Linked DNA regions of Homo sapiens: region 2 is linked to region 1. The links come from fine-mapping of genetic effects on gene expression. Tissue or cell type: monocytes after LPS. Region 1 holds a variant in brackets; the other region holds the start of a gene. All regions are shown on one strand. Distances are between the middles of the regions.

Region 1 (8,100 bases):
ATTTCTTTTGGGGAGTTTTGAGGGTGAATCTTGGGGCACTATTGGTTCATTATCTACAGTGAGCCCTGGCAGCCAAGAGCTCTAGAAGTCCTTGTCCTTACATGACTCCGCTGTCCCCTTTAAAGGACCTTCAGCACAGGCAGCCATCTAATGGGAAGTGATCATTCTGGGCTCCCAGGCAGGGGGTACCACACCCCGCTCCTTGCTCAACCCATTTGTGTTTGAACGTGATCGATGAGTTGGCCTTGCGCAACCATGAAAAGTCTCTTTATGCCTTAATTAAGATTGATTTTAATTTCACGTCCAAAAAGAAGGGTAAATCCAAAGCCCTTAAAATGGTCACTTAGGCAAGATAATGAGAAACCTTTCTAGGAGGTGCTGAGGCGATTGGAATGGGGGTTTCAGAGCTGGCTGCTCCCCCAGAGTGGGAGTGAGTGTGGGTTTAACTGGTGTGGGGCCAAGTGACCCCTCTGCCTCCTGCCACCTGACGTCAGGGTGAGCAGTCAGCCCCCCAACCCTTGTCAACACTCAGGGAGAGGCAGGGGTGAGTCTGCTGGCAGAGTTGTCCTGGCCTCAAGAAAGCAGGAGATGGGCCGGGCGCGGTGGCTCACACCTGTAATCCCAGCACTTTGGGAGGCCGAGGCAGGTGGATCATGAGGTCAGGAGATCGAGACCATCCTGGCTAACAAGGTGAAACCCCGTCTCTACTAAAAATACAAAAAATTAGCCGGGCGCGGTGGCGGGTGCCTGTAGTCCCAGCTACTCGGGAGGCTGAGGCAGGAGAATGGCGTGAACCCGGGAAGCGGAGCTTGCAGTGAGCCGAGATTGCGCCACTGCAGTCCGCAGTCCGGCCTGGGCGACAGAGCGAGACTCCGTCTCAAAAAAAAAAAAAAAGAAAGCAGGAGATGAATGTTCGTCCCATGCTGTTCCACGGCAGAGATGGATTCATACCTCAGGTTTTATTAGCAGGAAGGCAGCCCACTTCTGTATCCTCCGTTAACAAAAGCATTCATGCATTCCAGCTGTCATCTAGGTCTCTCAAGTATCCTTTTTTTTTTTTTTGAGACAGAATCTCGCTCTGTCACCCAGGCTGGAGTGCAGTGGCACGATCTCGGCTCACTGCAACTTCTGCCTCCCGGATTCAAGCAATTCTCCTGCCTCAGCCTCCCAAGTAGCTGGGATTACAGGCATGTGCCACCATGCCCAGCTAATTTTTTTGTATTTTTAGTACAGACGAAGTTTCACCATTTTGGCCAGGCTGGTCTTGAACTCCTGACCTTGTGATCCACCCACCTCAACCTCCCAAAGTGCTGGGTTTACAGGCATGAGCCACCGCCCCTGGCCTCAAGTTTCTTTAAGAGGAAAAGAAAAGATGATTTTTCCAATCTAGTCTGACTTCTTGGCAAGCGTCTAATGCCACCTCCCAATCTCCCTTTTGAATTGGTCCGTAGAAGTGCAAACTTATTTTAATATTAGCCAGATTATTTGGAAAGTAAAAAGTACTGCCAAAGAAAAAAGGGATGGATTCCGGAGCCAAGTACCCATTTCCAATTATCCATGCCTGCGCTCCTTCCGTGAGTGTATGTAATTGGGAGGTGACCACTCGCCTGTGTCCTTGCAAGGTTGACGTGAAAGCTGCCTGCTGTCCTTCCAGAGGCTGGGGGGCCCTTTGTGAACCAGCCTCCCCTCACTGAGAGCGTCCTCTGATGTCTGCCCCCAACAGCCCCTCCTGGGTGTGAGCACGGCTTGTCCCAGTATCACGTCTGCCCCCAGCTCCCTCTCTCCTTTGGTTATTTTCCCTCCCATCACTTAGTTCACACCTCTCTCTCTCGTGCACCGGAAATACGTTCTCACTATAGACAGCAACGTCAAAGCATGCACACCTTTTTACCAAGTAAAGCCCATCTCTAGGGAACAGCTCTCAGAAAAGAGAATGGTCTGGGCTGGTGGGTCTGGTCGGTTCTTACAATGGTGTTTTCCTTCTCTCTCTGTCTCCTCCAACCTGTCCGCCTTTGGCGCTGGGCACTCGGCCCCCTCAGCTTCGTGACCACCACCTTTGTGATAGAGGCCATGGCTGCAGCCAACGCGCAGCTCCACTGGAAGAGGATGGAGAACCTCAAGGTGTGTGTGTTGCCCTCGTCTCCGGGCCATGCCTCTGTTCCGTCAGGTACCCAGCAGGCGGTCTCAGCAGCCCATTCTTTTCCTCTCAGTGCATGGCGGGCTCTGTCCACGGCACTGCTCCTGGACCCCAGTCCCAGAGCTGAAGCTTAATAGCCACCTAAATCTTAAAGCACAAATGGAGCCTCTGCCACTTTCCCGTCTCAGCCTCAGGCCCTCCTACCCACACCCGCACCCAGCTCAGCTGTTTGAAATCTTTGTACCCAGGAACTGTGTTGTCACTTCTTCCCGAGTGCGTCTCTGCCACCTCTAATGGGGCAGCATAGCTGTGCTGAGAGCTTCCTAAAGATACAGATACCCTGCAGAAGGAAAGAACACAGGGGCCGGTGGGGGGGCTCACACCTGTAATCCCAGCACTTTGGGAGGCCAAGGCGGGCAGATCACTTGAAGTCAGGAGTTCAAGATCAGCCTGGCCAACATGGTGAAACCTCATCTCTACTAAAAATGCAAAAATTAGCCTGGCATGATGATGTGTGCCTGTAATCGCAGCTACTCAGGAGGCTGAGGCACAAGAATTGCGTGAATCGGGGAGGTGAAGGTTGCAGTGAGCTGAGATTGTGCCACTGCACTCCATCCTGGGCAACAGACTGAGATAACATGAAGTGGCAAGCATTTCAAAAAAAAAAAAAAAAAAGAGGCCGGGCACAGTGGCTCATGCCTGCAATCCCAGCACTTTGGGAGGCCGAGGTGGGTGGATCACCTGAGGTCAGGAGTTCAAGACCAGCCTGACTAACATGGTGAAACCCCATCTCTACTAAAAATACAAAATTAGCCGGCCGTGGTGGCAAGTGCCTGTAATCTCAGCTACTCGGGAGGCTGAGGCAGGAGAATCACTTGAACCTGGGAGGCAGAGGTTGCAGTGAGTTGAGATCACACCATTGCACTCCAGCCCAGGCAACAAGAGCAAAACTTCGTCTCAAAAAAAAAAAAAAAAAAAAAAGGAAGCAGGTTTGCCATTGTCCTAGGGCTTTTCTGTAGAGTTCCATGCTCTTTTTTTTTCCTTTCTCTCTTTCTTTTTT[G/T]TTTTTTTGTTTTTTTGTTTTTTTGAGACAGGGTCTTCGCTCTGTCACCCAGGCTGGAGTGCAGTGTTGCAATCACGGCTCACTGCAGCCTCGATCTCCTGGGCTCAGGTGATCCTCCCATCTCAGCCTCCCAGGTAGCTAGGACTACAGGCACATGACACCACACCTGGCTAACATTCTGTACTTTTTTGATGTGCTCCTTTCTTTTCCCTTGTTTTCCTCCCTCCTCCTCGTCCATCCTACTGGCTCCCAGGAGGAGGAAGATGACGACTCCTCCACAGCCTCAGACAGCGATGTTCTCATCCGGGACAACTACGAGCGGGCAGAGAAGCGGCCCATCCTGTCTGTGCGTAAGTCTTGGGGTTCTCGCGGGCCCGCACTTCCCTCCGGGCCACAGGGTTCCCTTTCTTCATGGAGAGGGCCCTGGAGAGGCTCCCCGCAGATTCTGGCATTTCCTGCCCCTGGGTTCTGAGGCAGGCCCTGTGGTAGACTCAAAAGAGCACAGGGTTTCAGTCCTGGGCACAGGCCTGGCCCCTGCTGGCTTGGCCACTACTCAGATTTGCAGCTTGGTAAGTTCCTTGACCTGTGCACCTCAGTTTCCCCCCATACCCCTTCCTGTTACTGAGATGATTAAATGCCTGGTTCCTTGCCTGGTGCACCCTGGAAGCTCAAGTAGATGTCGTTCTGTGGCATCTCTTCTTCCTCCTGCCTTGTGCCCTCATGTTCATACATGCCCCTGCCTTGCTGTCTCCTCCCTGGTCGGCTGGGTTAGGCTCTGACGCCTGCTCTCCCTTTCACCCCAGCAGGAGCATCTCTGAATTCCCTTAAAAAAAAAAAAAAAAAAAAGACTGTGTTAAACCATGTCAAGCAGGAAACATTAGGAAAAGTTTTCTCGAGTTTGGACACTTGGGGATTTCATGGTTTAGATAATTCAGTGAGGTCCTCACCACCCTCTGAAGCTCTCCACGTGAAGAACCACTTCCTCTTCCTTGTTCTTTTGGCTCTGCAGAGAGACGTGGATCTCCCAACCCGTTTGAAATCACAGACCGGGTGGAAATGGGACAAATGGCCTCCATGTTCTTCAATAAAGGTAGAAGTTCTTTTGGGGGTGGGGTGTGGGGAAACGGGGAGCTGGTGCTTCCCTGCAGGCCTGCACCCTTGTAATGAGGGCTCCACCCTGACAGCCAGACCATGGGGCAGAGCAGGTGGTAGAGCTGCTCCCTCAGCACCTGAGAAGCCACCTTGCTGACCTGTTTTCCTGGATTCCTCCCTGTCTGCGGGCATTAAAAACAAAGAGGCCGCTTCTCTAGCGGAAGTCAGGAACCCCAGGCAGCTACTCCAGCCAGGGTCAGGAACCCCAGGCAGCTACTCCAGTGAGGGTCAGGAACCCCAGGCAGCTACTCCAGCGGAGGTCAGGAACCCCAGGCAGCTACTCCAGTGAGGTTCAGGAACCCCAGGCAGCTACTCCAGTGAGGGTCAGGAACCCCAGGCAGCTACTCCAGTGGAGGTCAGGAACCTGAGGCAGCTACAAAATAAGCTTTTTCCTTTTCCTGCAAAGGAAGTTGATGGAGGCCGGTTGATGGTTTTGCACCTCCTGCTTGATTGCCTCTGACCTTGCCCTCTTCTGGCCGATTCTGTCTAGAATAACACCTTCTGACAGCGCTAGAATCTGCTATGCGCACGCCTGGGCGTGGCTTCCCAGTGGCCGGCAGAGGGCGCTAGGAGCCCACACCCAGGCTTGCTGAGTGAGACCGGAGCCCTGAAGTGTGCTGGTGAACCTGCTCCTTCCTGGGATCTGGCTGCAACCATAAGGGAGCCACCCAACTCTGGGGTTGAGTTGTTGGGTGTGCCAGCGACATCTTATATCTCCATGGCAAATCTGGTTCTTTTGGAAGATGAGCTATTTAAGAGTTTAGTGGGCCGGGCACGGTGGCTAACTCCTGTAATCCCAGCACTTTGGGAGGCCGAGGCAGGCGGCTCACGAGGTGAGGAGATCGAGACCATCCTGGCTAACACGGTGAAACCCTGTCTCTACTAAAAATACAAAAAATTAGCCGGGCATGGTGGCAGGCGCCTGTAGTCCCAGCTACTCGGGAGGCTGAGGCAGGAGAATGGCATGAATCCTGGAGGCGGAGCTTGCAGTGAGCCAAGATCGCGCCACTGCACTCCAGCCTGGGCTACAGAGCGAGACTCCGTCTCAAAAAAAAAAAAAAGAATTTAATGGCCAGGCATGGTGGCTTATGCCTATAATCCCAGCACTTTGGGAGGCCGAGGCAGGCGGATCACTTGAGACCAGGAGTTGGAGACCAGCCTGGCCAACATGGTGAAACCCCATCTCAAGTAAAAATATGAAAATTAGCTGGGCGTGGTGGTGCACACCTGTGGTCCCAGCTACTCCAGAGGCTGAAGCACAAGAATCACTTGAACCTGGGAGGCGGAGGTTGCAGTGAGCCGAGATCACACCACTGCCCTCCAGTCTGGGCTGCAGAGTAGGACCTTGTCTCAAAAAAAAAAGAAAACCAGAAAAAAGAGTTTAGTTTTTAATGCCCAGACCTGTTTATTTCCATTTCATTGAGAGTCAGTCACATTCTCAGTTCATCCTTCCCCTTGCAACTGTCTTCGAAGATTTTCTGCCCCTTTGTCAAAGCCCCGTTTGTCGAGTGGGCTGCCCTACCAGTTCTTTCTAGTCTTAAATGTGGCTGCACTTAACTTAGAGCCGGGGGGACTGTAGGAACTAGAATCTCTTTGACTGCTTTTTAGGACGTTAAGCATTTAGGCAGGGCGATGTGATTATCAGCCAAAGGCCGCCCTAGGGCCTGGTTCACCCTCCCTGCTGGACCGGCCTCACAGAGGGATTTCAGAATTCAGCAAAACCAACTGGTCAGGTTCAGCCCGCATCTGTGCTTCTCCTTTGTTCCATTTCCATCCCTCCCGTCTCACCAGCCTGAGCAAGCATAAGCGTTTCCTCCTGGCAGCAACGCAAAGTCCCCTTCCAAATGCAAGCTTTAAAATAAAGTGCACATTGGAAGGAAGACGCATGCTTTTAAACCTCCTTTCTCATTTTCATGTTGTGCAGTCTGCCCTGATTTCTTTAAGAATTCTAGCAAACAGCAGTTTTGCCTTTTTTGCCCCCCACTACAGACTAGACTCTTAATTTGCCCAAATCTAATGGAAAATAAAGACATTGTCTGAGACCAGCCTCACACTTAAAGGGAGTCTCCTCTACCCTGGAGTTTCTCAAGCTCAGTCCTGTTGATGTTTGGGCTGGGGAATTCCTCCTTGTGGGCCTGTTCTGTGTGTGGTAGGGTGCTGAGCAGCATCCCTAGCCTCTGCCTGCTGGTTGCCAGTAGCACCTCCTACTTATGACAGTCAAAACTGTCCTCAGACATTGTCACATGTTCCCAGCAGGGTCTGGGAGGCAAAATCACCCCAGCTGAAAACCTCCGCTGTGCTCCATTCCTGATTCACAGACTGCCAGATTGTCATCTTCACCCTTGGTGGGGCTGCCTCCTCTATAGGAGGCTCCCTTAGGGTCCCAGCTCATTTCTTATAATCAGAAATGCGGGCCTAGCCATTGATGTCTTCTCAGGAAGTTCATTGATCCCTTATTTTGTGTCTAGTAATGAAGTTTATTGACCAGGGAGGGCCAATGGCAGTTTATAAACAGAGCTGATGCCAGAGACCATTGGCAGGTGGAGGAAAGGCTGGGAGTGGGGCGGGGGACAATGCGTCCCCTCAGAGCAGAAAACAAGCTGGAGTGCAGGCTGTACCTGGAGCCTGGGCCTGAGTGACAGGCCAACCCCAGAGGCCACTAAGCTTGGACGTCAGGCTATCTCTGACATGTCAGGGAAGGACATGCCATATTCAAAAAGTGAGTGCCGAGGCCTCTTGGGTCCCCTTGAGGATCACGTTTTCTTAGTCTTTTCCCCCCCAGGCTCCTAGGAACAGAGCTGACCTCACATGGCCCAGGAATAACATGTCCTAGGCTTTCCGTTGGGTACCCTGCAGGCTCTTCTGAGCCACCAGGATTAAAAGGGAACTGTCACTTCATTTTTCTTTATGTTCTCAGAGAAGCCAGCAGCTTGAGACCAGTGACATCAAAAACGTGAGCCTCAGTCTGAGCAAGGGTGGAGACTGGTTGTCTGAGCAGTAACCCTTAGGTCATAGGGCCCTGCCACTCTTTTCAGAGCCCTTGCACCTGGCCTTTCTAGCTGGAATCATTTATGGAAGATGGCCCAGGTGGAATTCTTCTCACCCTTACGGGTTTGGAGACGTTCATGGACTTACTGGGGTCCTGAAACAAGTCTGATGGAATTAGGACTAGAGCCCTGTGTTCCCAACTTCTCGTTCAGCCTCCTGCTGGAGTGAGAGGGGACAAACGTCACCTCTGCAGCAGAAGTGTCAGTATCACACACCATCCAGAGTCAGCATTGTCCCTTGGGAGTGCTTCCCGTAAGAAGGAAAGGGGGCCTGTCTTGAGCACCATCTCCCCAGCACACCAGGCCACCGTGTGCTTGGGATCAGTCAGATTCAGAATGAGACAGTTGGCCTTTGGAAATCCAGGGCTTTTTACCCTTTGGATCCCAGCTTCAGAGAGCTGGGCTATTTTCCATCAACTTCTCTTTGCTTCAACTCTTTAGTAGCAATCTCTTGTCTTAGAGCCCGGTGTTGGCTGACACCAGAGGGGGCCCCAGCCCAGACGCACCTGGGGTTCAGGCTCCTGACTCGGGACATCTCTCCTCCCTCCTCCCACCCCAGCCATGCCAAGACTCACACTCACCGTGCACCTGTCTGGCTTCAAAATCTCTCTGATCCTCCCAGCCTCGTTGAGTCCTCTCAGGTGAAAGTCATGAGCCGATCTGTCTCTTGTCAGCATCACAGTGTAGCCAGCCAGAAAAAGAAA
Region 2 (8,100 bases), 43 kb before region 1:
AAAACACAACCAGAAAAGTCCACACATACATCCAGGGCAAGTTGCAAGAAAGTGACTCAGTCAGACAGAGTGAGTGGTTGTATCCTCACAACCAAACTATTATAGAGACAAAAATTTGATAAATTCAAGCACCAATTTTGTTCACGACATTGTATAGGTTTCATGAATCCCCTGACCTCAAGGACAGTTTGCTGATAAGCAAACTAGGAGAATAAAACGTTTATATAGAAAGAGGAAAATCCATGGCACTCATACTCCTACCTCCAACCCCATGCTCATGGCAGACATCACTAATCAATCACAGTACTTTTGATCACTGAAACCCTTATGTGGTCTTAGAATCTTTAACAGGACACTCCAAGAAATCACTGCTGACAGCCAACTGATTTGTGAGATAAGGTCTCCATGCATCTGGATCTTCCATAGAACTGATAGTTGCACAGCATAAAATGGTGAGGGTGGGGCCATTGTGGGTTGAGCCACCAAGGAAGGCCATCCAGGCCTGGATGGGCCAGAACAAAGGTACAGATGAGAGAACGCACAGGGTATCGTGTTCAAGGTAGTGAGTAACTGAGGATAGTCAAACGGAGCAGAAGAAGAAAGGGGCAGCAGGAGGAAGAGAATGCCAGTCTCGCACGCCCTCTCCCACAGGCCTGGCTCACTGAGATTCATGAGTATGCCCAGAGGGACGTGGTGATCATGCTGCTAGGCAACAAGGTGAGTGGCTCCGGGGCAGGGTCAGCCCAGCCCTGCACTTCCTCAGCCCTAGCCGGCCCCATAACCACCCAAGAACAGTTATCTAGGCATCCTTCCTGAAAAGGACTCTGCAGCCTCCAGCTCAGGGGTCAGACATATCTGGAGGCTTCTGCCCATCCCATCTGCCCCTTCCAGGGAAAGTCCAAGTTGTTGCCTGAGAAATCAAGGGGTGCCCAGTTCTCAGCCCCCATTAGAGCAGAGTGAACAGGGTCCCAGGTCAGGGGCTAAGAGTGCAAAGGGTTAGCCCCAACTGCTGTCCTATTCCAAGACCCTTTACCAAAGGTGAGATCCCAGAGCTGGGAGCTACACTGGGCAGAAACCCTGGCCCCAGGCCAATCACACCTGCCTGCAGTCCCTTGGGCCACCAGCAGAGGGCAGGCAACGCCTGCTTCTGGGGCAAAATATGGGCCCGCTGGGGCGGAGGCCTCCTTCCCCAGAGTGACCCATTTGGGCTTGACAGGCGGATATGAGCAGCGAAAGAGTGATCCGTTCCGAAGACGGAGAGACCTTGGCCAGGGTAAGTGATTGTCTGTGGGACAGGGTGAAGGGTGGGGGCAACCCGACGCTGGCCCTGAGGACACTCTCTCCCGGGCAGGAGTACGGTGTTCCCTTCCTGGAGACCAGCGCCAAGACTGGCATGAATGTGGAGTTAGCCTTTCTGGCCATCGCCAAGTGAGAGCTGGGCAGGGAAGGGAAGTGTGCGGGGCAGGGCGGCACACTCCAGGAATCCAGTAGGGCCCGGCCCCTGGCCCAGCCCCTGGACACACCTGCATTCTGCAGGCTGAGGTCCATTTGCTCTGGGAGCACTGGGCCACTGGGAGAGGGGAGGGGGCGGCTCAGCTCCTCACCCCAGCCCAGCCCAGCCCAGCCCAGCCCATTGTCTCTTCTTCAAGGGAACTGAAATACCGGGCCGGGCATCAGGCGGATGAGCCCAGCTTCCAGATCCGAGACTATGTAGAGTCCCAGAAGAAGCGCTCCAGCTGCTGCTCCTTCATGTGAATCCCAGGGGGCAGAGAGGAGGCTCTGGAGGCACACAGGATGCAGCCTTCCCCCTCCCAGGCCTGGCTTATTCCAAGAGGCTGAGCCAATGGGGAGAAAGATGGAGGACTCACTGCACAGCCGCTTCCTAGCAGGGAGCTATACTCCAACTCCTACTTGAGTTCCTGCGGTCTCCCCGCATCCACAGGGAGGGTAAAACACTTAGCTTTTATTTTAATAGTACATAATTTAATACCAAAAAAGGCGCCTGGATCCCCAAAAAACCGAGGCTGGGAGCTAGTGGCCCTTTTGCTTTCTAGGACTTGGGGGGCCGGCCCTCCCTCCTAAGCATAACAAAGGTGGTGTTGCTCCAGCTCAGCCCCAGGGGACACAGATGCACTTTGGGGGTGAGGGCAGGTAATGACTCCATCGCACCCTCAGTTCAGCTGGACAGAGGCTCAGGTGACCCCAGCCTTCACTGTCTCCCGCTCTCCAGGAGCTTATCTTCGCCCCATCTCCCAAATAAGTGGGCCCTTGTGCTGTGAGGAAGACCAAAGCCTCAGGGAAGATAAGAGATATGGAGATGGGAGGGGGAGGACAAGGGGCAGAGAGTAGGGTCTAGCTGGCTATCTCTGGCCTTACTAACACCCCCCTGGAGGCATGCCCCTTTTCTCCAGCACACAAGCACATTGGGGCACCTGGAAATATTGGTTCCAGGCTCCTGTTCTCTGGACTTCAGATCCTGGGGGAGCCCCTCCCCCCCCTGAATCCCTGGCTTAGCTACCTTCCTGCCTGTGCACCTAAAAACCTCAGGTCAGAACTAGGAAAAGAGTTTTGTTTTTATTTTTTTGAAATGGAGTCTCGTTCTGTCGCCCAGGCTGAGGTGCAGTAGTGCAATCTCCGCTCACTACAACCTCCACTCCCTGGGGCTCAAGCGATCCTCCCACCTCAGCCGCCGAAGTAGCTGGGACTATAGGTGTGTACCATCACACCTGGCTAATTTTTGTATTTTTTGTAGACACAGGGTTTCGCCATGTTGCCCAGGCTGGTCTTGAATTCCTGAGCTCAAGCAACCTGCCGGCCTCGGCCTCCCAAAGTACTGGGATTACACGCAGAAGGCACCATGCCCAGGCTAGATGTGTCTTATCCCAATCCTTTGGCAGGCATGCAGCTCCACAGGCGATTTCTTCAAGCAGCTGAAGTGTTTAGCCCTCCTGGGTTAAGAGCCAGATAAGGAGAAATCCCTTTCCTAGGTTTGGAATGTGTTGTGAAAAAAAAGAGAAATCCCTGGCTCCTGGAGCTGGTGGGAGACAAGATTAAGCAAACCTCCCCTGACATGTATCCCTTTGACCCCAAGCTCTGCCTCCTCCCTGACCACCCATGCCCTTTCCTTTAACTTCTCAAACAGATACCAGGGCCTAAACTGCTTTACCTCCCCTCCTACTGAGTCAGGTTAGGTGGTGGGAGGTCACCCATTTCCGAGTTAAACCAATGCAATATGAGTAAAACAAAGTCATGTGGGTATGTCTGGGGTAGAGAGAGGGGTAGCAAGTTCATGTGTCCTCCTTGGTCACATATCTCCCAAAGCTCCGATCCCTGCCATGGGAAGTGGACAGGAAACATGAGGTCATGACCTGCAGGCATCTTTACTGCAGCTCTGCCGGCCTGGAGGGGGAGAGGGGGAGGAAGAAGTATGCGCTGCACATTTCTGAGGCTACTGCATTTGCTTTCAAGGCAGAAATCTTGCTCTGAGCAGTCAGCGGCTCCAGTTTGGGCCCGATAAGGAAGTTCTCCGTGGCCTCCCTCAGGCAGAGCAGGGAGGAGGCTGACATTGCCAGTCTCTTCTGGGGCCCAAGGCAGGTTGCAGGAGATCCAATCCCATAGACAGCTCTGGGCCTCTTGCATTTGAGTTTTTCAGAATTAAACTGCAGTATTTTGGAAAGCACATCCTGTCCACTGTTTCTTTGAAGTGAGTGGGGGGGGGGGGTCTTGTTGAAGGAATTGTCATTCACTGCCAAAATCATTCCATCCTCCTTCCTCAGTGTCTGTCCTCAGATGGTCAGCTCCCCGCTCAACAGACTGTCTCCCGCCTCTGTGACCAGCCTCTCTTTGGCAAGAGGGAGCTAGAAGGCTTTACAGTCCTAATCATTTTTCTGTTGGAAAAAAAAAAAAAAAACCAAGGCTCCTTTCCCTGTGGCGTGTACCCAGAGGTTGATTACCTGAGTCTGTCCTGCCTCTCCCCACCCCACCTCCCTAGCCAAACGCTGCTGCCAAAGCCCACGCTATTGCCCTAGATGGCCTGTCTTCAGCGGGCTGCCCCTCGAGGTCCCAGGCTCTCCGCGGAGCCCTCACCTTCCCAGCAGGGATCAGAACCTGCACTCCTCTATGCGAGTCCTGGGACAGCACAAAGTGGATTAGGGTTAGGGTTCCCACAAACGGAAAAATGTTATTCAAACAACTCTGTAGGGTCCGAGGAGGCCCTCCGTCTTAATTCTCGAGACTGACCGGCCCTCGCTGCCCCGAGCGGGAGCAGTTGCCCCGGCAACAGCCGCTCCCTCTCAACTGGAGCTGCACCCAGGCTTTGGCTAAAGGCTGTTAAAACGTTGGCCAGGTGCGGTGGCTCACGTCTGTAATCCCAGGGCGGATCACCTGAGGTCAGGAGTTTGAAACCATCCTGGCCAACATGGCGAAATTTCGTCTCTACTAAAAATACAAAAATTAGCGGGGCGTGGTGGTGCGCGCCTGTAACCCCAGCTGCTCGGGAGGCTGAGGCAGGGGAATCGCTTGAACCCGGGAGGCGGAGGTTGCAGTGATCCGAGATCGCGCCACGGCAGTCCAGCCTGGGCGACAGAGCGAGACTCCGTCTCAAAAAAAAAAAAAAAAGTTAGGGTCCTTTACCCGAGGGCCGGCTTTCCTCACTCCCCGCCACAGGTAGGGGAAACCAGGCCGGAGCCGGCGGGCCCACCCGCCCAGAACCGGGAATTCGGCGAGCCCCGCCCCTGCCACCCCAGCGCCGGCCGCTCGGTAACAAACACTTCCACTTCCTGAGCGCTAGTCTTCGCCCGCCGCGGGGCGCCGCGCCGAGCGCAGGCCCCGCCCCGCGCGTTCCCAATGGCCGGCGCCGTTCACCCGGCCGGAGCGCCCAGGCCTGCAGCCCCCTATTGGCCCGCGGAGGTCCCCACCCTCAGCGCGGCCCCGCCCCCGGGGTAAGGAGCCGGGGCGGACTCTGGGACGCTCAGACGCCGCGCGGGGCGGGGATTGGTCTGTGGTCCTCTCTCGGCTCCTCGCGGCTCGCGGCGGCCGACGGTTCCTGGGACACCTGCTTGCTTGGCCCGTCCGGCGGCTCAGGGCTTCTCTGCTGCGCTCCCGGTTCGCTGGACGGGAAGAAGGGCTGGGCCGTCCCGTCCCGTCCCCATCGGAACCCCAAGTCGCGCCGCTGACCCGTCGCAGGGCGAGATGAGCGCGGACGCAGCGGCCGGGGCGCCCCTGCCCCGGCTCTGCTGCCTGGAGAAGGGTCCGAACGGCTACGGCTTCCACCTGCACGGGGAGAAGGGCAAGTTGGGCCAGTACATCCGGCTGGTGGAGCCCGGCTCGCCGGCCGAGAAGGCGGGGCTGCTGGCGGGGGACCGGCTGGTGGAGGTGAACGGCGAAAACGTGGAGAAGGAGACCCACCAGCAGGTGGTGAGCCGCATCCGCGCCGCACTCAACGCCGTGCGCCTGCTGGTGGTCGACCCCGAGACGGACGAGCAGCTGCAGAAGCTCGGCGTCCAGGTCCGAGAGGAGCTGCTGCGCGCCCAGGAAGCGCCGGGGCAGGCCGAGCCGCCGGCCGCCGCCGAGGTGCAGGGGGCTGGCAACGAAAATGAGCCTCGCGAGGCCGACAAGAGCCACCCGGAGCAGGTAAGCGGGGCCCAAGCCGCGCAGGCTGGCATGGAGTGGGAGGAGGATCCGGAGAGACCCAGGTGCCCCGGCCGTCCAGCCCCGCGCCCGCCGTCGTTTTTCTGAAACTCGAGCTGCGAGGGGGAGACCGCTTCCGCCCGCCGACCAGGCGCCCTGACACATCCTAGGCAGGCCTGGGGCTGCGTCCCGCGACCTCCTCTCCTTCCCAGGCTGTGCTGGGAGCTTGAGCGCCTTTGCCGCCTGCACCTCTTGTTCCCTGGCCTTTGGGAGGGCGGCGCAGGGGAACCCAGCCCCCTTCCCTCGGGTCTGTGGGTGTCTGCTCCCGTTCCTCGGAATCCCCCAATCCTGCTCCTTCCCTGGTGCCCTCTCCTCGTTCACCCCAGTCCGCAGATGGGCCGGGGAGAAAGGGCTCTCCGCCCCAGAGGTGCCAGCTTCGCCCGCCACTCCTACTTCAAAAGCTAGAGGAATAGCATTACTCCTCCTGTGTGGAGCCCCGGCGCGAGGAGGCCCTCTCCGCAGCCCGCCGGTGTGTGTCCTGAACTTCAGTCCTGCTGGACTTCATCCTCCCGGAGTCCTGTGTGACTTCTAAGGGAGAGGAAGCCCCACCATCTCAGGGCGGTGTGGGGGTTGCCTGGCAGGGAGGAGGAGCCAAGGCATCTCGGAGTGGTGGTTCTGCCACCTCAGAGGATTTACGATTCTCAGGAATGTGAAGAGTAAGCGCCTAGAACTGTATCTGGGAGGGAAGGGGAAAGACCTTGGAAGAAGAAAAAGATGGCCATGGGGAGGAGAGAGAGCTCCTGGGGCTCACGGCCCTGTGTGCGCCAGCGGAGCTCACGGTGAGCCGGTGGTCTTGCCCTGGCCTTGCCATGGTCACTCTGGTGCCCACACAGCCAGCAGGCCGGTTGCTTTTTGCCCATGTTTGGTGTTTGCCCATGGGATCCCAGTTTGGATCAGCTGCAAGAGGGGCAGCTGGCAAAATAGGAGTTGTGCTGAGCCTCCTGTCCCCAGAGAGTGGAGTGGTGCATTGTGTAGGGCAGGGCGTGAGCCTCCCAGGACCCCTTCAGCTTGCACCACCAGCTCTCCCTGGTGGCAGTGTCTGATGGGAGTGTCCGTGGGGCTACGAGGAGCCTCCTGGACAGAGAAAGGGCACAGTTCGGCATTAAGGTAGAAGGCAAAGCCCTAGAGGATCAACTGGTTTGGTGGAAGTGAGGTCACCAGAAGCCCTGTCCAGCCAGAGCTGGGTGCTGGGAATGCCAGGGCCACCAGGCTCCCACTTCCTGCCCCTGCCAAGCTGGCATTGGCAAGGGGAGGGGGAAGGGATCTGAGCACCCGGAGCAAGGAGGTTGATGCCAGGGAGTTGGGGCCGATGATCTCCAGTCCCAGGCAGAAATCCAGTGTGAACTTTGTGCTGAGTCCATCGATCGATTTGACATTCTTTTTTTTTTTTTTTTTTGGACTTTGGCACCCACACAAATACCCACCCACCCCCACCCCCCACAAGTTGCAGTCTCGTTCAGCTCCTCCCTTTGCCCTTTTGGTTATGCTGCTGGGTGCCAGAGGGCCTGGGAGGCGAACGTGGAGGCCTGGCATAGCACACGTGCGCAAAGGCAGCAGCTTTGAGCTTCCTGGGTGAGCACAGACTCAGATTCCTGCATGTTTTGGAGGGACACCTACATTTGTGTGTACTTTGTTAGGCCAGGAGATGAGAGGAGAGCCACCAGCAAATCCTGGGGACACCATCACCAGCCAAGTCCCAGGACTTCTGAGTTCTGGTTCTCCCATCTGTGAGATGGAGGCATTGGGCGATGTGATGCCTGCCTTCTCTAGAATTATAGAAATGACGTGAAGCACTTGAGCCCCTTACTAAATGCTGAACTGCACTCCTTCATGCCTGGCGTTTGAATCCCAGCTCCTCTAAACTGACTCCTAGTCAACACCATTGAGTCCTTCTAGCAGAAAATCCTCTCCTCTCAATCCTGTGTGTTGAGCATACAGACACCCATGTGGTTATTAGAAAAAATGTTAACAGACATTGTAAGAGTTCGTTTTTCTAAAACACACCCGTTTCCTACATAAAGCATCAAATGGAGGTTTGCCAATTCGTTTTAGTCTGAATTTGTGTGCAAGGTGGGGCTGTTCCCTTGTCTTCATTAGCCCTCCACTTACTAAGTGATGATATCAGTGGAAAAGTGTGGCGCAGAGAGTGGTTGGCTGGGTGGCCTCTGGCTGGGAAGACCAGCTGTGTCCAGAACCACTCAGGGCAGAGGCTGAGGGGTGCCTGTAACACTGGCCATCCCCGCTGGGGAGTCTAGGCCTAAGGAGGTGGAAGTGGCTCTCCAGCTCTGCCCACCGGCTTTGCTTTGTGGATGGCCTTCCCCGCCTGCCCCGTGGGGAGAGAGGAGCAGCAAGACCCGCCCTGCTGTTCCCCTGCTTAAAGCCCTCCTCCCCCCATTCACCACCAGTCACAGG

Alleles and levels. Alleles are on the strand shown, and positions count from the first base shown. SD is a standard deviation of normalised expression in the study named.
As copies of T replace G in region 1, the expression in monocytes after LPS of the gene that starts at base 4,972 in region 2 goes up (small effect, 0.40 SD a copy in Quach 2016).

What was found. PIP is the estimated chance that this variant, and not a neighbour inherited with it, causes the effect.
Region 2: it holds the start of NHERF1, and the variant in region 1 is fine-mapped to the expression of NHERF1 in monocytes after LPS (Quach 2016, PIP 0.95).

What each region holds. Positions count from the first base shown.
Region 1 is chr17:74,786,750-74,794,849 of GRCh38, forward strand. SLC38A12 (solute carrier family 38 member 12) reads left to right here. Exons shown (of 10, transcript NM_017728.4): 4 at 2,040-2,121; 5 at 3,451-3,547; 6 at 4,207-4,287. Among named protein-coding and RNA genes, the nearest start is that of SLC38A12, 14 kb to the left of the region's middle. The variant G/T (reference allele first, on the strand shown) is at 3,198.
Region 2 is chr17:74,743,657-74,751,756 of GRCh38, forward strand. It overlaps NHERF1 (NHERF family PDZ scaffold protein 1), which reads left to right and starts at 4,972. Exons shown (of 6, transcript NM_004252.5): 1 at 4,972-5,631. The coding sequence starts at 5,191. RAB37 (RAB37, member RAS oncogene family) reads left to right here. Exons shown (of 9, transcript NM_001006638.3): 6 at 652-717; 7 at 1,217-1,273; 8 at 1,352-1,428; 9 at 1,650-3,679. The coding sequence ends at 1,755. It overlaps SLC9A3R1-AS1 (SLC9A3R1 antisense RNA 1), which reads right to left and starts at 6,211. Exons shown (of 3, transcript NR_187307.1): 1 at 5,407-6,211; 2 at 4,917-5,271; 3 at 1,944-3,887. MIR3615 (microRNA 3615) reads left to right here and starts at 4,957; the gene lies at 4,957-5,043. RefSeq lists enhancers at 3,526-4,121, 5,410-6,035, 7,527-8,068 and a silencer at 4,516-5,205.